3 linked regions of the Homo sapiens genome follow. The protein of the gene in region 2 interacts with the protein of the main gene of each other region in a biochemical or structural test. Each region holds a gene or a part of one and is shown on either strand. Other genes may lie near its edges.

Region 1 (7,886 bases), on a different chromosome or scaffold from region 2:
CCCCAAATATATTCATGTACACCAGGGATATCTAGCAAAATATAAAAATGCAAATTACCAAAAGCAAGTATCCTGGCTTGAGCACGTGAGGCCAAAACGTGAATGAGGATCAGAGAGCCTAGAGGATTGAGGTGGGGCGCAGTATTAAGGAAGGGCCCGTCCCAAGTGGGCAGAGTAGATGTCAGGTTCCAGGAAAACCGCACAGGGCTAATCAGTGAGGGTCAGTCAGGCCTCCTGAGAAGCTGTACAATCAAACCAAACCTATAAAAATGAGAACAATCTTGCAGAGGCACCTTGCCACTTAAGACCTCCACACTATTTTTTAAAAGTCACTCCTTCATCAGCCCATGGTTAGGTCACCAAAACACTGCCAAGTTTTCAAATTACAAGTCAGGGAGAATGACAGAACAAACTCTCAAACCCTGACTTCCAGGCTCACTACTCAGTGGAGAGATCTAAAGTCTCATGTTCTACTTTATTTTAAAAATTTTTAAGAAGGGTATCCCTATCCCATCATTTGGAGTTCTTACTATCTTCCTGGTTTGCCACCTTTTTAACAACTGCCTAACTCTGAGAGCAGAAGGATTTATGAAAGGGTGTCTCAGAGCTCCTAGGAATCCACTAAAGATGATTTTGAGGGTCATGGCGATCAGAGGATATTACTGAAGGATGGCAGGGGTAAAAAGTAGCTACCTCCAGAGGCTTAAGAGGAAAAGAATAAAGAAAAAGGGTGACCGCTTAGGATGGCAGGGATAAAAAGTAGCTACCTTCAGGGCCTTAAGAGGAAAAGAATAAAGTAAAAGGGAGACCACTTAAATTGAAAAAATAAGGCAAAGTAACATTTTCACAGCATGAGGACAGCAAATAGCATGAAAAAAAGACAAGTCTCCCTGAAATTGGTAAACTGAAGTTTTTAAAGAGAACCACAAAAATAACCTAGAATAACCATTTTATAGTCACTTACTGATTCATTCATTTGCCTCAACTCTCAGAAAAATCTCTTTAAATTCCACCAGAAAACATCTGTCTTCACCTACTAAATTTTGTACCTGCTAATATGAGTTTCTTATTCCTTATGCAATTTGTGAAGAAAGCTCTATTTAGAAAAGATCATCCATGCAACAGGTGAGGAGAAGGTAAAATGGTCACAGAATTCATTTTGATGCAGTTCTCTGGGCTGGTATTAGTAATTAAGAAATGGGATCATGGCCTTGGGGAAGGTCACAGATTAACCATTAGTAGGACAAGAAATCTGAAATCAGATTTGGGGGTCACTAATAAAAGTAACGAGGAATCTTACAAACTTCAGCAAGAAATGCGAGAGGCAAGCCGCAACAGCTGCATGTGAGCAATGATTTAAAAACAGAAGCAGCAATAGAGAAAATAATTAGGGCTTCCAAGGCCCTTCTTTCATTTTTAAGAACACATAAACCATGAGGAGCGTTTAAGCTATCCTCATTGGGAGGCAGACCAAATGCAGCAAGAGGCAGTTCGGAAATAGGAAGCCTGTGGAAAAAAAAAAGAGCACAGTACCTCTTGGCGCTGGTGGAGAGGAGTTTGGAGTTTTTGCTCATGCTGACTTTACTCTCCTTCTTCTTGGGGGTGTTTGTTTCTTTCTCGGTTTGCTGGTTGGAAGACGAAGATGAGGAGGAGCTGGTGCTGGCCCTCGAATCGTCATCCGACATAGCGAACCCCCCACCCCACCCCGCAAACAGCCCCTGCAGGGGGAGAGAAACAAAACAGAAACACACAAACCATGCAGCCAGTGTAAATAAGGAACTCGGGTGCTGTCAGGAGGGCATTGACCAGGGGCGCACGCGGCCGCCCACCGCCCTCCACTCGCTTTTCAAAGTCTGCAGGCCCATTAAGGCTTTTGCAAATCGGACGCGGCTTGTTTATTTTTGGCCCCAAGTGGGGAACGCTGTGGGAAAACGGTCTGGAGCTAGGAGAGAGGCCCCTCCCTCGCCCCCCGGGGCTCTCCGCTGGGCAGGGAGGGAGTAGCCCGGGAGGCGAAGGAGGGCAGGGCGGGGGGCGCGGGGCGCCACGGCGGGGCAGGGAGGGAAGGTCCCGGCGGCCGGCCGGCCTCGGGGCTGTTTTTGTCCGCTTTCCGGGGGTCGTGAGGGGCCGGTGGCCCGGGTGAGACTGTGGGGCCACGAGCGGAGTTTGGCGAGGTCGGGAAGAGAGGAGGGGCGGGAAGGAGTAAGAGAGGAAGCCGAAACAGGGGGACGGAGGCGGGGAGCGGGTGCCCGGGTGGGGGAAGGGAGAGGCCGGCGGGGGGCAGGGGCGACGAGGCCCGAGGCCCCCCCGCGCCGCGCCCCGACGCCCCTCCCGGCCTGCCTGCCTCTGGCCGCCCTGCTCACAGCTATGCGGCCGGGCGGGGGTCCGGAGCACACGCCCGATCGCCACTCCTGTAGGGGGATAGGGGCTGCGGCGGGGAATGGGGGGGTCGGCCTCCGCAGCGAAGACATAACAATGAGCCCTTCCGCCCCGGAGGGGTTAATCCCCGCGAACCCCCGCCCCTGGGGAAAACGGGGCTCCCCCAACTCCCTCCCACCCCCGCTCCCGGGCCCCTCGGTGGCCAGTGGGGGGCTCTTGGGGCAGCGCTGACAGTTCGAGCCACAATGACCCCCGTCCTCAATGCGGGCGGCCCCCGCACCCCACGCGGCCCGGGGTCCCTGCCCATCCCCCGCGGGCGGGCCCCGGACCCCTGGGGCTCCCCAGCCCCTCTCCGCTCCCCCCCCGCGCCGGCCCCGTGCCCTGCGGCCCGGCGGCCCCGGCGGCGCGAGTCGGGGGAGGCGGCGAGGGGTGTCCCCGAGGCCCGGCGGCGCGGCCGGGGGGCGGCGGGCCGCTGGGGGGATCCCCGTACCTCTCTTTGTGTCTGGCTCCTCCGTGCCGCCGCGGCGGCTGCTGCTGCGGCTGCGGCTGGGCCTGGCCACTCGTGTCTCTCTCTCGCTGGGAGAGAAGCGGAAGTGCAGCAACAGCAACTATTAAACAGGCAATGGCTTCCCCCAGCCACACACGCTCGCACACACACCACTCCTCCGCCGCCGCCTCCTCCTCCTCCTCCTCCTCGCCCTCACCCCTCCCCCACCCGGCCCGGTCCCACCCACCCGCGCTCCCCTCCCCCTGCAACACCTCCTGGGGGTGCGCGAGGAAGACCCAGGAGACCCCAGGAAACCCTGTCCCCCACAGACACCCCCACCCCAGCGCCTCCTCCGGACGCCCGGGAAGGGGGCGAGGGTTGTGAATTTTCTCTTAAGTGGTTTGGGAACCTGGATTCTGGGCGGGAGAGGGGAAGCCGATGGAGATGGGGGGCGCTGGGAGTGATTGGAACTAGATGGAATAGGGGGGTCACGAGAGAAAGTTCTTTCCAATGAGGGCTTTTGGAAAGGAGAGGAGTAGGGAGGTGGCAAATTGGTGAAAACGTTGGTAATCTGGTGGTGGCAAAGACTTTAGAGAATGCAGCGGGTACTCCACCTAAAAAGCGATTAAAGAGAAAAAAAAAATCACACAACAAGGGTTTTCTTTGGACTGACACTTGCTTCTCCTTCTAGCAATTTACCTGCTAGGAGCAGAGGTCAGTTTAGGTATGCCTGTGAGAAAATCCCAAACTAGGAATTTTCTGCTCAGGTCACGCGAGGCACGTGCAGTTTTACAATATTAGATTCTTCCACTCACTTTTTATAGAAAGTGATGTGGTTTTTTATAAGAGTGATACAAAGGTTTTGGTGACAGGTAAAACCAACGTGTAACGGGCTTGCGAATGTGAGACATCACTGGGAATAAGCTATATACTACTGAATTAGACTGGATTTAGAATTTTTTGTGTCATTTTACATTAGATGTAAGGTTTGGTTTTTGGAAATTGGATGCAAAGTTCTGGGGATCGCAGAATCCCCAGATCGCTAAATTGACCAAATTATTTTTAAAATATTAAGCCATTTTTCTCTTTCTTTAGCTACCTATAAATGCTATGCAAATAATATTTTTGAAATGATCAGCAATTCTTCTGAATTGTTCCTTATTTAGCATTTTTGCCAATTTTTTTTTAATATTAAGCCATCAAATTACGATTCAGTTTCTCACCTTTTGTCATTTCAGTTGAAGGGAACTAAAGAGATGTGTGCCATTCAAATACAACAGTGCCACACATACAAGGTCTTGTACATTAAGGAGACAGCCTCAGATTTCCATAGGTCACTCTAAATTATCTCATTCAAACTGCCATCATTTTCCACAGCAACAGTGGCTTCAGTTACCACAGGACAACACAAGATATACAGCCCATGGCATATCCAGTAACCAGGAAAACAAGCATTCTCACGACCCAGCCGAACTCCTTCTAACCATCAACCTGAAATTCCAGCTTTATCAAGACTCATAAAGTAATTGTGCATGCTTCTTGCTCAATCCCTACCAGGAAACCTGTATCTACCAGGAGTTGTCATAGAATAAGAAGTTCAAAAGCTGGAAGAAATCTTCAGGGTCATAATTTCAGCCTCCTGCTTCCAGACAGAACTATTTCTCCACCACTGAAATGCATATAGATTTTGAAAAAATTTCCAGACATAACCTTTCTTAAGTGTTTGGTTTCAGGAGTCCTGGTAGAGTATATAAAAATGATGACATTCTTTGCTATATATTTGAAAAAATTTTTTAAACTTCTGAAAAACTGATTGTATTCTTTTTGTTCTGATGAAAAGATGTAAATTCAGAAGAAAACAATAAGAAGATGAAATAAACTCAGGATGAGGAAAATAATCTAAAAATAGTTATTAAAATTGAAATTTCCTCCTATGAAAATTTGGATTTCTGATACTTAAAAATATATGTCTACATTATGAATACAACCAGTAAAAAAATCATGTGTTATAAAGACAAGAACTAGCAGAGATCACAGGAAAATAAAAGGTTTGATTTGCTGAAGTGATCAGGACAGTAGGTGAATTTTTTCTTTAATATTGGTTTGCATAAATTGCCTACCAGCTATAATAAGAATTCTTTTGTAACAGAACATGATATTTTGTGTTGTGTTACTGATGCTTGGGTTGGACTGATTCCTTGTGAAAGAAATCATGAAATCTAACAGCTCCTCCTATAAGGAAAAGTGATTTCCCAACCACCTGTCTGGAAGGTTTCTTGCCCTCTTTTGTGTACTGTTCCCCCTAATCTCTAATTCCAGCTAGCTTAAGTTAGTGCTTTATCGTTTTGGAATGACCTGATGACAGGGAATAAAAACTTCAAAATGTTTAGAAAAGAATCCAGTCCTCTCAAAAGACTAATCTTTATGTCGAATTATTTTTAAGACCTGTATGCAGCTGTCTTAGGGGAAAAAAAATTCATACACAACTTTCTATCTCTCCTTCTTATTAACTACAAGGCCTAAAAAGCTAAATTGACCTCCCTGAGCCTCAGTTCCCTCATCCATAAAGGGCAGAAATACCTGTGCTCTACTGACTGGCAAGGTCAAATATGTATCTGTAAGTAAGGTGATTTATTAGCTGTTACGCAAAGTAAATTATTAATAATTCCACTCTAGTGGAATTTTCTTAGTTCATGGGTTTGGGGTTATTTGTTGCTTTTATGTTTTTGTTTTTCGTCACCAGGGCAGAAAAGAGGACATGGGGTTTTTATAACTTAGAATTGATGAAAATATAAGAAACCTTCCAGGAGAAACATATACTCAAGGAATCATAGTATTTTATGCCTAGAAGGGGCCTAAGATATCTTCTAGTTCACACTCTTCATGTTACAGATAAAGAAATCAAAGCAAAGAAAGTTATGTTGGCCGGTATGTTGGCCGGGCGTGGTGGCTCATGCCTGTAATCCCAGCACTTTGAGAGGCCAAAGCAGGTGGAACACGAGGTCAGGAGATTGAGACCATCCTGGCCAAGATGGTGAAACCCCGTCTCTACTAAAAATACAAAAATTATCTAGGCTTGGTGACATGTGCCTGGAATCCCAGCTACTCGGGAGGCTGAGGCAAGAGAATCTCTTGAACCAGCGAGTCTTGATTGGAGGTTGCAGTGAGCCGAGATCGCGCCACTGCACTTCAGCCTGGGGACAGAGCAAGACTCTGTCTCAAAAAAAAAAAAAAAAAAAAAAAAAAAAAAGCCAGTATGTCTTATCCAAGGTCATGCAGTAAGTTGGTGGCAAAATTGTTGTTATGACCCATGCTATCCACAGATGATCTTGTCAGTTCTGGCAATATTGGAGTGGGAGAAGAGCCTCAATTACATTGCAGAAAAATGTATTAAATATAAAAGGGCCGGGTGCAGTGGCTCACGCCTGTAATTCCAGCACTTTGGGAGGCCAAGGCAGGCAGACTCCTTGAGCCCAGGAGTTCAAGACCAGCCTGGGCAACATGGCAAGACTGTCTCTACAAAAAATGCAAAAATTAGCCAGGCCTGGTGGCACATGCCTGTGGTCCCAGATACTTGGGAGGTTGAGGTGGGAGAATCACCTGAGCCCCAGAGGTTGAGGCTGCAGTGAGCTGTGATTGTGCCACTGTACTCCAACCTGGGTGGTGGGAGTGAGACCCTGTCTCAAAATAAGTAAATAAATAAAATAAATATAGTAGTCTCTGATAATATTTTCGAGAATATATTAACAATCAAGACAGCTGGGAAAGTGGGAACATGGAAGCAAGCTAAGGGAATCACTGAATTTGTAACATGGTTGCTTGAACTAATGACTGCTATTGAAGTTCCCCAACCCCACCCTCATCCTGAGAATAGTCCTCATTATTTATTTATTTTGCCTATATGGATATATTTTAAATAGATAATACATTTTCATGCTATATTATTCTAAAGAAACCAGAGAGTATGCCACGAAAATATCTTTCTGCCCCTTCCCCCACCCCTAATTTCCTTTGGAGAAAGCAGTTTTCGGTTGTAGTCTATGCATGTGTAAAGCAAATGCATACATATGCACTGAATGCTTTGATAGTAATGCTCAATTTACATTTTAGAAAACCAGCCAGTCACAGAAGCCCAAGTAGTATTACACTGTGACATCCTGTGGACTTTGAGAAAGTGGGCTCCAGTTTTTATTAATACCTATTCCTGGTTTTCAGAATGACCCAACTCTCCTTCAAGTCATCTTTAGTGTATCAAGTACATTTAAGTAGAAACACTTGAAGATCAAGGTGCTAGTTGATCCCTAGGAGGTGAAATAATACAGTTGAAAGAGGGAGACTTGGTTTAACTTTTTGACTTGTTGCTTACACTGAAATTCAAGTATTTCATAAAGATTCTCTTTGGCCAATTTCATGTCCAAAGAATTGTCAAGCAAGTTAACGTTGGTTAATATAGTTTTTTAACTTACCTTATTGCTGAATAGAAAGGATTTCCTTTGCTGGGCGTGGTGGCTCACACTGGTAATCCCAGCACTTTGGGAGGCTGAGGTGGGCGGATCACCTGAGGTCAGGAGTTTGAGACCACCCTGGCCAACATGGTGAAACCCCGTCTCTACTAAAAATACAAAAATTAGCTGGGTGTGGTGATGAGTGCCTGTAATCCCAGCTACTCGGGAGGCTGAGGCAGGAGAATCTCTTGAACCCAGGAGACAGAGGTTGCAGTGAGCCGAGATCATGCCATTGCACTCCAGCCTTGGTGACAGAGTGAGACTCCATAAAAAAAAAAAAGAAAAAGAAAAGATTTCCTTTTTCCATCCAAAGAAAAAAAAATCTTGTGTTTGCAACTTATAAAGAATTTATATAAAGCCTTTCTGGGAAAAATGGACTCACTGGATTTCAATCGACTTGTTTCATTTTATAATTCTCCTTTGGCTGAAAAATCCATTCCTTGTAAGAAAGATAAGGAAAGTTCAAAAACAAGGGTCGATTCCATAAAGACGAATGTGATCTGGGGCATTTACCTTCA
Region 2 (7,103 bases):
ATTAATCATTTTACCCATACCTCAAAAGTAATTTCTAATATAGTTCAGTAGTTAATGTCTAAATTTTTAAAATTCAAATTTTCCCCATTTTTAATACCAAAATAATTGCTTTGTTAATGCTCTCTTAAAAAACAGAAGAATCCTTCAGCCTTCCAAGTAGAAACACACTTTAAAATTTATTATTTTTTGGCCAGGTGCTTTGGCCCACGCCTGTAATCCCAGCAGTTTGGGAGGCTGAGGCGGACAGATCACTTAAGGCCAGGAGTTCAAGACCAGCCCAGTCAACATGGTGAAATCCCGTCTCTACTAAAAATACAAAAATTAGCCAGGTGTGGCGTCAGGCGCCCATAATCCCAGCCACTCAGGAGGCTGAGGGACGAGAATTGCTTGAACCCGGGAGGTGGAGGTTGCAGTGAGCCAAGATCACACCACTGCACTCCAATCTGGATGACAGAGCAAGACTCTATCTCAAAAAAAAAAAAAAAAAATCTAAATACACATAAAAAAAATTATGGTGGTAAAGGCTGCACAACAATATGAATGTACTTAATGTCCCTAAACTTAGAAATGGTTAAAACGGCAAATTTTATGTTATACATATATTTTGCCACAGTTTAAAAAAATTATTTAAATCTCTTTTACTTTTTTTTTGAGACAGAGTCTTGCTATGTTGCCCAGGCTGGTGTGCAGTAGCGTGATCTCTGCTCATTGCAATCTCCACCTTCCGGGTTCAAGTGATCCTCGTGCCCCAGCCTCCCAAGTGGCTGGGACTACAGGTGTGTGCCACTATGCCCAGCTGATTTTTTTGTATATTTTGGTAGAGATGGGGTTTCGCCATGCTGGTCAGGCCGGTCTCAAAACTCCTGGCCTAAAGTGATCTGACTGCCTCAGCCTCCCAAAGTGCTGGGATTACAGGTGTGAGCCACCGTGCCCAGCCTATTTCTCTATCATTTAATTTTACAAGTCCTATTTTGTCATTGACTTTTACTATACATGCTAAAACAAGCATTTTCAAATACTTTTTGCAGCAACCTACCTTAAGAAATACATATAACATTGTAACCCAGGACAACATACACACTCTTCCTGAACCTATGAATAAAAGTCAGATCCTTTAGCAGAAGGAATATTTGTTATGGTAAACTCCTATGCAACAAATAACATCTGATATAGCTGCCACCTAATACATATTCATTAAATGAATAAATATATAAAAGGTTGATGGAGTCATTGCCTGCAGGGCCCCCCTTCCTCCTGGCTCTTAAAAAAAAAAAAGCCATTCTGTGTTGTGGTTCTCCCAAAAAAACTGGACTGAACATATCTATCCTCAGCCTTGCCCCTAGAAGGCTTTCTCCTTAATTTTTAACACATATTCTACAACAAGCTGAGTTCTATCTATTTACATAAAGGTTAAGAAGTACACTAAGTGATCATTTAAAAATATAGTCTTGACAATTTTCTAAATATCCAGTCACTATATAATGAATATATACAAATAAACCTCTAGCATTATTACTAGGTAGTGCCTAATATTTATATCACTTAATTCTGTGTCAAAACAACTCTATAATCTCAATGGCTTAACACAACAAAGATTTATTTTTTGCATCATGCAACATCTCAGGGATTAGGGAAGACAAGAGAGACTCTGTTCCCCACTGACCACAAACAGGGACACAGCCTACCGAGCCTCCAACCATCTGGACCACCTCACTGCAGCAAGGAGAAGAATTTACTTTGAAAATCATAAACCTTCTCTTATTAACTTCTACCTGGATGCTAACACTTCACTTCTGCTTACATTTCACTGATCAATGAACATCACACAGTGATGCGTAAGAGGGCAAGGAAGTGTAATTTCACCATATGAGCAGAAGAAAATCAGGAATATTGCTGAATGGTATTAATAACTACTCATATTCTTCTTGGACTAGAGAGAAATTCTGATTCAGGATTCAGAGAAGTCAGAGAGGAGGATGGATGTATTCAGTCTAGTTCCCTGTCATAAATTTCTAGTTTTGTTAAACATTGAGGATAGTAACTCTTCACATTGTGGTATTAATGTAGAGAAGGTAAAGTGCTCTTCAAAAAGGTAGAAGAGCCAGGTGTGGTGGCTCATGCCTGTAATCCCAGCACTTTGGGAGGCTGAGGTGGATCACTTGAGGTCAGGAGTTCGAGACCAGCCAGGCCAACATGGTGAAACCCCATCTCTACTAAAAATACACAAATTAGTCAGGCGTGGTGGCAGGTGCCTGTAATCCCAGCTACTCAGGAGGCTGAGGCAGGAGAATCGCTTGAACCCCAGAGGTGAAGGCTGCAGTGAGCTGAGATCGCGCCACAGCACTCCAGCCTGGGTGACGGAGTAACACTCTGCTTTAAAAAAAAAAAAAAAAAAAAAAGTAGAAGAAAGGTTCTATTCTCTATTTGAAAAACATTACTATTTCTTTAAGCATAGTTTTTTTGTTTGTTTGTCTGAGACCAAGTTTTGCTCTTGTTGCCCAGGCTGGAGGGCAATGGCGTGATCTAGGCTCACTGCAACCTCCATCTCCCAGGCTCAAGCGATTCTCCTGCCTCAGCCTCCCAAGTAGCTGGGATTACAGGCATCCACCACCATGCCTAGCTAATTTTTACATTTTTAGAAGAAAAGGGGTCTCACCATTTTGGCCAGGCTGGCCTTGAACTCCTGACTTCAGGTGATCCACCCATCTTAGCCTTGCAAAGTTCTGGATTACAGGTATGAGCCACCTCACCTGGCCTAAGTATAGTTTTATATAAAGAAATAGTATGATATATGCATATTTCACATAATAAAAGACCAAATAAAAGTACAGAGACTTTCCCAATCCCTATTATTTCTTGGCTACTGGTAAGTTAATGCTATCTATAATGTTATTACTGTCTATTAGTTGTCAGGCAAATAGACTATTTATATACATCAAAGATCACCAAAACCTTAAAAATCCTTTTCTTTCTCCAGAAAATATTTTAAAACCATGTTTCTTAGCATTTCAAAGTCTTCCAGCCTAAAATTATAGGTACTCTTGCTTCCTTTTTTGGTGGATAAATTATTTTGAATGTGTTCCACTTGAAAAATAGTATGAATATATTAAAACTGTCTTAGATAGTGCAACTGACCTGGAAAAAAAATGGCAACCTTAAACTCTTTTGGAGAAAACTCCCTTATCAAAAAGAGTAAACTTACAGAACTTACGTTTGTAAAATAACTGTTCAAATGTTAGTAAATGCTATTATTTCCAAATCTGGTATCTGAAAATAACTTAGTTTGAAATACGTAAAGAAAAGTTTTAAAAGTATACAGAAAACTGCAAAAAAAAGCCACAAACCCTTCAAACTCATTTTAACAGAAAATAAAGAGTAATTATCACAAGCTACAAACACTTCTGTCCTTGATATTAGTAAATAAAAACATGGTGAGACTCAAATGACTTATCTGTATTTTCATTATTGGCTTATTTATTTGTAAAGAAAACATTGTTCTATTGGGTTTATGGCTTCAGGCAAATGATTCACTCTGTGATACACATTCTTATTTATTTGAATCAGGGTAGCACGTTTTTCTCAGGTGTCTTAAAGCTCTTTACAGATAAGTATTGAATATAAACATCTCAGAAGATAAAATAAAATTAGTAACTAAGAGTGAGATAGTTTATAGCTTGAAGATTATTGACCTTAATAGAAACTTAGGCTTTCTGAAACTTTCTGGGAATTTTATCATTCTAAAAATCAAGTGGAAGGACATTGTTTCCTATGACATTTGCATTACATGAACAATTTTCAATCTTAAATCCATACAAATACTTTTCCTACCTAGGTCTGTTACTTGTCGATCAAATGGGCAACGGATTGCTCTTCCATGAAGAGGTAGGCGAGTGAGACAGTCATGACAGACGGTATGGCCACAAAGCAAAAGACGGGGAACTTTGTCTCCTTGCAAAGAAAAGACATCTTCACAAACTCCACACTCTAGCACCTAATATTTGAAAAGGAAGGATGTGCTCTTTAAACAATTTTAAAAGCATACATATTTTAGGTATATAAGAAAATTCACCTAATATATTGAATCAACATTGTTACTTTATTCCTCTATGAAAAAAAAACTATGTAGGTTGTAAAATCTTGAATCACTTTTAAGTCATTCCATTTGACCGACCCTGTCAAAATTATATCATAATGAAATATCTTTGAAATACTAAGTGTTGGGGCAAAGATGCTGTAAATTAACATCTTTGTTATCTTTTGAAAATTATGATTTCAGTCATTACATCTGAATCTGTACAAACAATATGTAATTCTACTGAAGGTGGGTTCTTAAGCAATTTCTCTGCAACTACCTAACCCATCATTAATTTCAACACAAATAAACTATCATTAATTTCAACAAAAATAATCTAAAATATGTACTGAGATAACAATTACCCCTGCAAATGATAAAGAACTTGTTAAGAAAAGACTGCAAGTAACTTTCAAGTATCTTCTACTATCTAATGTACATTAAATAATACAAAGGCAAAAAAAGCAATCATCTTAAATTTCAATTCCTGTTCTCTATCAATAAATATAGCTCTGAATTAGAAACTAGTTTGTCTTTCTAGCTCTAGTTACAGACACATGACTTGCACAAGGCTACACAGTCAGTCAAAAGAAAGGCCATTTATCAGCATATTCTGATTCTCAAGTCCATAAGTTTATGTTTTACAAATAGTCAACAAATTGTATTTATAGCAATAAAGCATTTTCAGCACTTATTTCTAAGTATATTTGTAGTGTTTCATACCTTGCATTAATTTTTTAAAAATACCCACACTGTACTATTCAATCATACCTCAAACTCCTGTCATTCAAGACCTGCTACAATCTGGTCCCTGTCCTATTGCTTCACTGCCATACTCTTCTGACCCTATGCTCCAACTATATCCAACAGCTTATAGTTCTCAGAACATGAGAAACTGTTTCATGTCTCTTCATGCTAACACTGAGGAAAGGACTATACTTGTCCTTTGGGCCCCGATGTACTCTGTATAAGCGTCTACCGTAACACCCAAAACACTTTAATACCTTGGTCTTTTAGCCCGTCTTTCCCTGTTGGACCAAAGAACCCTCAGGAACTGGGTATTTTAAATACCAAGTACCTACTGCTTACATAAAGTCCAGTAAAATAATTTAAAAACAATTAAGCTCACCATCATCAAACACACAACACGAGGTAAAAAACAGAAAACCCAAGGCAGAAATCAGACTAAATCTACTATGATTTTAAACCTAACTCTACAATTAACTTGGACTTAGTGCTTGAGATGCAAATATCTTTCACCATACAGTGATAATTCATAATTGCTTTGCATCTTATCATGGTTCAAAAGAAATTTAAATTTAGTCCTTCAATGTAAATAAGGGTTTGGGAAGATAAAAATGAATAAAAATAAGAAACATAACATTGTTCAGAGAAAAGAAGATGAAAATTCTTTACGTGAAAAGATGTTCAATCTAACTCATAATAAGAAAAATGCAAATTAAAGCTAGGCATGGTGGTTCATGCCTGTAATCCCAACACTTTGGGAGGCCGAGGCGAGTGGATCATCTGAGGTCAGGAGTTCGAGACCAGCCTGGACAACATGGTGAAATCCCATCTCTACTAAAAATACAAAAAAATTAGCCAGGCATAGTGGTGGGCGCCTGTAAGCCCAGTTTACTCAGGAGGCTGAGGCAGGATAATTGCTTGAGCCTGGGAGGCGGAGGTTGCAGTGAGCCAAGATCACGCCACCGCACTCCAGCCTAGGTGACAGAATGACACTCGGTCTCAAAAAAATAAAGAAAGAAAAATGCAAATTAAAGCTACATCAAAATACTTTTTTCAGATTAGATCAAAAATGTTGGTAACATTTTGTTAGTGAAGGTGTGGGAAAGCAGACACTCTCATACATTACTAATTGCTATGAAATGTTTATTGAGCAATACAGCTTCTATGGAGGGCAACTTGACAATACTTACCAAATTTAAATAACTCAGTAATTCTAGTTGCAGGAATTTATCCTACAAGCATACTAGACACGTGTGACAAAATCTGTATGTTACTCCTTAAAGCATCATTTGCATTAGCAAAAAATTGGAAAGAAAGTAAATATACATCAATATCAGCTTGGAAAATAAATTGTGGCACATTCATAATACTATAAAACTATATAGGATAGTGAGAAAGATGAAGTTTTTCATATATACACAGAATGATTTCATATGATTAAAACAAAAAGAAAAATAATAGAATATATTCATTTTTGCATAAAGGTGGGGAAAGAGCAAATTTTTTTTGTATTGTTGTATAAGCGTATTGTCTTCCTGGAAGGATACATAGGACACCAGTAACATTGGAACACTGGTTCCCCATGAAAAAGGCAAACAACTGGGGAACAGCTATCCACGTATAATTCTGTCTATTATTCATATATACACATACTTCAATTTATCCTACATTTTTTAAAAAGGGGAAAGTTTCACGTTATCAAATTCTTTAGGCCAGGCACTGTGGCTCACACCTGTAATCACAGCACTTTGGGACACCAAGGCAAGAGGACTGCTTGAGGCCAGGAGTTCAAGACCAGCCTGGGCAACACAGCGAGACCCTGTCTCTACAAAAAAAAATCAAAAACTGAGGTGGGAGGATCATTTGAGCCCAGGAGGTCGAGGTTGCTATGAGCCATGATCGTGCCATTGCACTCCCACCTGGGTGACAGAGTGAGAACCTGCCTCAAAAAAAAAAAATTCAATTAAATATAGAAAAAATATTCATAGGCTGGGTGCGGTGGCTCACGCCTGTAATCTCAGCACTTTGGGAGGCCAAGGCGGGCAGATCACGAGGTCAGGAGATTGAGACCATCCTGGCTAACGTGGTGAAATCCCATCTCTACCAAAAATACAAAAAATTAGCCAGGCGCGGTGGCGGGCACCTGTAGTCCCAGCTACTCGGGAGGCTGAGGCAGGAGAATGGTATGAACCTAAGAGGCGGAGCTTGCAGTGAGCCAAGATTGTGCCACTGCCCTCCAGCCTGGGCGACAGAGTGAGGCTCTGTCTCAAAAATTCACAATAGA
Region 3 (7,000 bases), on a different chromosome or scaffold from region 2:
ATTGTTTCCCATACTGATTAATCCAGGCAGCTAACTCATTGGTTTATGCAACTTTATTGAAGAAAAATAAATCAATTACTAGCAGAGCTATTAGTTGATCACTCATCCATTGACAACTTGCATCATTTATTCAGTGCTATATTAAACAGTGTATTGGAAGATAGATTAACTAATAGCTCCAAGCCTCCTAACAATTTAAATGAAAATTACAAAATGTTTGAGACCCTATTTTGGAATACAAAGGGTGTTTGACTTCCAATTTCCATTCTCTGTAGAACAAGAACAGGTCATTCCTTTATTGACATGCATAAAATACATCACATTTTCTGTTCTGCTGATGCTATAAATTCAATACCAATTCTCCAGCCACATCAGTTATGAGCATAAAGCATATCATGTAACCTCAAATCTCTAACAGTGGAAGGCTTAAACAAGAATGGATGCTGCTAGAATAATGCTGTATCCTTTGATGTGACAACTGAGCATCCATCTCCCTCCCCCTCAGATGATTTCTTCAGCATGTTAGAGCAGTGAGGAATGGTTTTAGTCTCATAACCAAGTTAGAGTGAAGACATTGGCCACATAATACACATGCTCCATTTTTTTTTTTAAAAATTCTGAGTCTTGGGCAACTGTTCTCTTGTAACTACTTTACAGTTTCTAAAAGCAGTTATTGTCCAAAGCTGGAAGAACTTAAGTCTTCTCAGATGAGCATGTGAATGAATGGAGGGAGGTAAACAAAAAATAAAATTAAAAAAGATGAGGTCTGATAGGGGAGCAGCCGGATAAGAAAATCAAAAAAGGAACAGTAATTTAAAGTTTATTCCAGCTATAATGCAGGTTATTCTGACTTTAAGGTAGCATCACATGGCATACTTCTGAGTCCATTCCCGAGATATTCTGTTGTACCTGTAAATAAAGATGTTATTTTTAAAAGTTAAAATAAAGAATTCCTAATACTTTAAATGGAAGGGAAAGATTTCCATTTTATCATCTCCAGACTCATCATGAAGTCATCTCTAATGACTATGATTAGAATAAAAGCCAACAAGGGAGAAATAGCACTGGTACTCAAAGCAATGTGGGAAATGAGAGCCTGATGCTCTGAAAGTAGTATTTTAAAAACAACTAAGAAAGCAGCACTGAAAATTGGGAGGCTAACAAAAATCAAAAGACCCTTTCTTTCTCTACCACCGAGCTCATGCTCTAATTTTAACGTGAAGAAATTTTTACAGTTCATTATGGACAAATGTTAAAATAGTATACACATTCTATCTATCCACAGAAATTTCCACCAAGGCCAGAACTAGGCTTTTACTAGAACAATTTTATCTGAATCCTAGAGTTTGGGAAATTACTTGGTCCTGGATATTACAAGAAAAAATGGCTTTGGGACTTAGGTAGAGGCAGAAGGGGAAGATGACACTGGGCAGAATGACAAAGGGCAGTAATTTTCAAAAGGGGTGTGTGTGTGAGTGGTTGTGTTCATCAGAATCACGTGTTACTTTTAATAAGTGTGGTAACTGAGGCTAATAAGCACCACTGAGACCTGTTGAGTACAACAAGGGCATCTTCGTTTAAAAAGATCAACAGGTAATTCACACACAAGCAAGGTTATTACTCAGGAAGACTACTAACATTGATAAATACTATCAGCTTCCCCCTGGATTATACTCATGCCATAGACTACTTACAACAACAAAAAACAGTGATAACCTTAAGAAATGAATATATATATATATATATGCACAGGAGAATTTTTATATTGTTTAAATATTAACTAGCTTTATTTCAAACCAAGAACCAAATATGGTCCAACAACTTTCCTAAACTTTTTAAAAAGTTCTTTCTACCAATTCATTGTCATCTCCTAAGGATACTCTCTCAAAAAGCCAGCACTTTAAAACAAAGGCTTTATTTAGCATACAGGGAGCCACAAAGTACAGCTGACGCTAATGCATGCTTGTCAGTAATGAACATTTAGTTTAGATGCTTAGGCTTAAAAGTGTTTTTCCCTTACATTACTATCTCCCGGCAAAATTTGAACTAAACCACCACATTCTGTATAGGATTGGTACAAAGTCTCAAGCTAAAATTTAAACACCATGATAGTTTGAAAAAAAAAAAAGATACTACATAAATTCCCATTTCTTACTAGTGCTATTGTAACTGCTTTGCCATGCAGTACTTTCAAGCAATAACGGCTACCAGATATTTACTTTCACGTTAAACAGAGACCAAGCAGTTAAATGTACAGTTTTCAGAAGACTGCCATATTTGTTACCTTTTGTTAGTTAATACAGTGCCTTAACGCATGCAGCACTCAAGTGCTGGCAGTACCATAATAAGCGCACCATAGAGTGCAGATCCTCTTACCCTACAACATAGCGTATTTCTCTGTCCACTCTCTTGCTAACCTATTGTACCTAATTGAACAAGTACACTTAGCATTAATTATAACATATGAAAGTTATAATGGTTAAGTTGAACATAAATATAATTCAAATATTTGAGAAATTTAGACCAAATTTTTACAATAGTACTAACATTTTTGGAAAAACATGCTTGGGGTAAAGAAAAATTTGCTTTCTTCCCCAAAAGTTGAGAATAAAGTGATACTGTTTAACACGCTAGGAAAAAAAAAACAACAATAAAACATTTTAGAGGGGAGCATTCACTGTCACATAAGCTAAAGCCTAGTTAAGTTTTTTTAAATAACCACATTTCAATAGCTTTCTCCATATTTTAACTATTATCTTACTAAATATCAAGTCTTCTTGGCACTGTCACAAGCAAAGTATAAGCCTAACTCATTAAGTAAAACCACTTTTATAATAACTTTTTAACATACTTACTTATCTCTGTCTGTTTTATAGATCCGTGCAATCTCTGGCACTAGGGGGTCATCTGGGTTTGGATCACATAGCAGTGAACAAATGGATAAAAGAACTGCAAGAAAACAAAAACATCTGTTACCCAGTTTCAGGAGTTTGGATAAATAAATTTTTCTAAACCGTGTATTACAAAACTCAATCCTCAAAAGACTTTTATTAGTTTGTATCTTTATCTCAATGAGACACAGTTTTACAGAGATTTTGTTTCACAGAAGACAAGCTCCTGGTAAGTAAGAAGTGCTAAAAACAGGGTTTTGTGGCATGAAATTCACTGCAGACTAGCCATAAAAATAGTTTCTAAGATAGGCAACTGATGCCATATTAATATATATATTTTAAATAGGCATAAATGATATTAGAACTTGAGTTTCTTGGTACTCAGTGGCTGGGGGGGGGGGGACTTTAGCAAGAATATGCAGGTAACACTCATGCCATATTCATAGCCATTAGGCATGATGAAAAATCCATTCTTAGCCGTTGTCTTGGCAATTTCTGAGAAAAACCCTCAAGTGCTCCACTAAATGTCTCCTTGAACTTGTAAGCAAGAAACCATATTCCCAAGAGTACTAGTTAAATACAATGCCAAAATCTCTTTAGTACTAAGTGAGTCATCAGCTCTAGTTTTTACCTTAACCAGTTCAACATACTGATGTATAAGATGTCAAGCATTAAGGAACATAGATCGCATTCACTTTGAGTGCCTGCTATGTGCCAGTCACCATATATGGTGGTGCTGTTATAAAATGTTAAGATATAAATGCTTGAAATGGTTCTGACCGATTTTTTTTTAAAAAAAGCAATAGTATAAAAAAGACAACACTGTCACATATTTATTGACTACAGCAAATTTAATTTCAAACCCCAAATACAGCAGAATATAAAATTACCTAATATAGGAGACTTGGCTATACAATAACTCACAGAAAAAAGGTAGCTTCAGTTGTGACTGCTAGTTTAATAAGTTAGCAAAGTATGGCTGCCAAAAAAGTAAGTTGCTTTAACGACAAAACAATACCAATTCAATCTGCCCTTACAAAAACAGTTTTCAGTGTTACTGTACACTCCCAGCAGTAGTAGAAAAACTTGGAAACTGATATTTAGGTATGTAGCATGATTTGAAAAGAAATTAGAAAGCATCCAAGAAGGTGAAAAACAGGTGTAAAATTTTAAAAACACTCGAATTATGGCAGCATCTGCCTAAGTTGTTTCTTTTTCTCCCTTAAGTGATTCTACTCAATAAAGTTTGGGAAATGCTACTGCTACAGTCTCTCTCCATGAGATTCAAGTGCAGTATATACACATATGAAACTTTTATACAATGCCTTGCCTTTTGAAAAAGCTTTTTTGTACTTACTGAACTCATAAAATCAAAAAACAATTAATGGTGAAATAGTGTTAATTATTACAACTTCACCTGGGATATTCATGCGGAGACCGGAAAACTTGTTACATATAACGTAACAGATACCTATTAAGAGACCAGAATTGATCTACAGATCTTTCGAAGATTATATAATTTTAGACTGTCATTAGGTAGAAACAACCTATCATGGTTACATAAAACATGACTGAAGATTTGTCTAAAAATTAACCCAGGAAAGCAAAATCAGAATTTTCCTAGAGTGGAAACCTCAGGATTCAAAAGCTCTATTAAGTTTAGGTATATCATACCATTCTTGGTAAAAAGGCCGCAAGTTAGTGTGAGATGTCCAAGTGGTTTGGGATTGAAAAATACAGAAGTCTATTAAAATAAATTTTGCTATTATAAGATGAGATGAAGGTAACTCATTAGGCAAATAATGCCTACTCACCACAATTTGAATTTTAACAACTTCTCACAAAGTATCTTTAATCAACACCACTAAAAGAACAAAAATTATAAAAGTAACTTTATTGCTTCCCCATCTCTTACCAAAAAGCTGCCATAATAAAAATACTCAGATAAGTAGATCTAAGAATGAAGCTTTATTAGACAATGAGAACAGCTTATTTCACTAGAAATATTTACCTTTAGAAATTGTTAAAGCAGGCGACCACTGTGATCTTAGAATATCGAGACAAATGCTGCCATTACTGTTAATATTTGGATGATAAATTCTTGTTGTAAATGCAACCTAAAACAAAAACTTTTAAGTATTTTATTCAAATAAAAACAAACATCTTTTAAAGCAAAACTTAAAATAATCAAGCCACAATGTTAAAAATGTCATCTATTAGCATAGAAGTTCTAAATATTATAGAAACTGATTTTTACAATCTGACCACAACCCCCTGCCTCCTCTTTTTACAACAGAAACCTAAACTTTTGGATAAAAATTTCATTACTCATATGATGTAAAGTTCTAAAGGTTACTGTGGCCCTACCATATCATGAATCAAAGGGCAATTTAAAGGTATTTAACACATTCATTTATAAAAGCCCTAACTTTTGGATGTAACCAAAATTTGTAGACCATCTCATTTAAAGTTTCATTAAGTTACACAGGTACACCTGAGTCTGCATTTCCACCGTACATAAAACATAAACTTGAATCACAAAAATGGAAACCATCACATTGCACCTATAACATTACTAGAGATTGTTATAGTGACATGTTTATGACCTTTGTATATTACCTTTTCTAGTTATTCATACAGGTTGAATTTATGTTAATGACTGAAAAGTGAAGGATAATATGCTTTTAATACCTATAAACCAGTGCACTAAGCAACTCTAAGTTTTCACAAATTTACACTTACGTATACAAAACTATAAGCATAATAAGCATATGCTGTAACAATACGTGCAAATATAAATTGAAGTTGGACATTTGATGCTTACAAGACAACAAAAGCCCAAAAATCAGAATCTGTGTAACAATAATACAGATGAGGGCGGAAGCTTCCACATGGTCTGAATCTTGCAACATTAAAGAAAAGGCAAACCTTATTCCTATTTACAAAGCTCAAACTGAGGTCTAGCTCTTTAAACCAAAGGTTAAGAGTCAGCATCTATACATGAGTGCAATTCAACATATATATACAGCCTACACAGAACCCTATCTTCCAAGAATGCTCTATTCCTTTGAAATAAAGCATAAATCTATACTAACAGATTTTGAGGGAAAATACTTGCCTTAGGTGGTTTGAAGGGGTAGTCTGTAGGAAAATGAATTGTCAAAAAGAATACACCGCCTTGATATGGGCTGTCATTCTGTAAAAAGAAAAGTATGCTTAACTCAAATTTAAAATATTATTGCTAAATATTCCGTAACATTTGTTTCCAAGCATTTCTCTAATAATGAACCCAAATCACCTATTTACACTGCAATAAATAATCTATTCCATGAAAATTCAGTCTATAGTAATAGAAAAAAACTTAAAACTTATACAGTAATAAACCCTAATTTATCTAGTCATTTTACACGTCACCAAAATGTTTTTTTAAAAAGTTATCCAGAAACGCAAGTATTCTAGATCTCAATTCTCAAAAGTACAACACAGCAATAAAGCCTACATAATCATGTTTCAGAATAATCTGTAAACAAAATTTTACACATGTAGATTATTTCTTCCAATAGCCAGATGTGTACAAATGGCTTCACAACAGTCCATTCTGCCCACTGGCAAACCAAATGTTAGCTATTCCAGGTAACACACACACACCACCTTCAAGAGGAGAACAGAGAAAAGCCTAAGCTTCTCATTTTAATCAATACCAGAAAATACATGCATTGCCCCTATTTTATGCATGAGAAAAATGAGGCTTAAAGAACTTAGTCTAGTGTACAAATGGTAAATGATAGAACCAAGATTCAAACACAAGTCTTTTGAAGACCACTTAATGATCAAAGATACTGACCTACTCAGGAATTTAAAGTTAAAATGTGGAATGCCTAACTGCTTCTGGGTATGCAAAGAACCAATCCGAAGACATGTTTTACAACTTACATGAACTGGGTTTTTACCAACACTGACTCCCCTCTATTAGAAAGGCTTTGTATATACAGCTATATATGAGCCTTTCACTATGCCCATTCTGGATGTCAGGCACATAAAAAACAGGCCTGACACTAACACAGCTCATCTAATTCCTACCCTTCTGTAAAATAAATAAACATTAATTC

Evidence for each region. Proteins that work in one complex are often made in the same cells at the same time.
Region 1: the proteins of TRIM23 (region 2) and UBE2E1 form a complex in vitro, tested with the Homo sapiens proteins (4 studies listed by BioGRID, with this or other methods).
Region 3: the proteins of TRIM23 (region 2) and UBE2D3 form a complex in vitro, tested with the Homo sapiens proteins (4 studies listed by BioGRID).

The regions. Positions count from the first base shown.
Region 1 is NC_000003.12:23,801,069-23,808,954, reverse strand, and holds the start of UBE2E1 (ubiquitin-conjugating enzyme E2 E1), read right to left. Parts: upstream 3,001-7,886; 5' UTR 2,867-3,000; intron 2,137-2,866; exon of another isoform or gene 2,050-2,136; intron 1,719-2,049; 5' UTR 1,686-1,718; coding exon 1,534-1,685; intron 1-1,533. UniProt on the Homo sapiens protein: Accepts ubiquitin from the E1 complex and catalyzes its covalent attachment to other proteins. Catalyzes the covalent attachment of ISG15 to other proteins. Mediates the selective degradation of short-lived and abnormal proteins.
Region 2 is NC_000005.10:65,614,265-65,621,367, forward strand, and holds part of TRIM23 (E3 ubiquitin-protein ligase TRIM23), read right to left. Parts: intron 3,992-7,103; coding exon 3,829-3,991; intron 1-3,828.
Region 3 is NC_000004.12:102,796,552-102,803,551, forward strand, and holds part of UBE2D3 (ubiquitin-conjugating enzyme E2 D3), read right to left. Parts: intron 6,088-7,000; coding exon 6,010-6,087; intron 5,009-6,009; coding exon 4,903-5,008; intron 3,025-4,902; exon of another isoform or gene 2,950-3,024; coding exon 2,856-2,949; intron 2,427-2,855; coding exon of another isoform or gene 2,378-2,426; exon of another isoform or gene 2,377-2,377; intron 910-2,376; coding exon 864-909; 3' UTR 1-863. UniProt on the Homo sapiens protein: Accepts ubiquitin from the E1 complex and catalyzes its covalent attachment to other proteins. In vitro catalyzes 'Lys-11'-, as well as 'Lys-48'-linked polyubiquitination.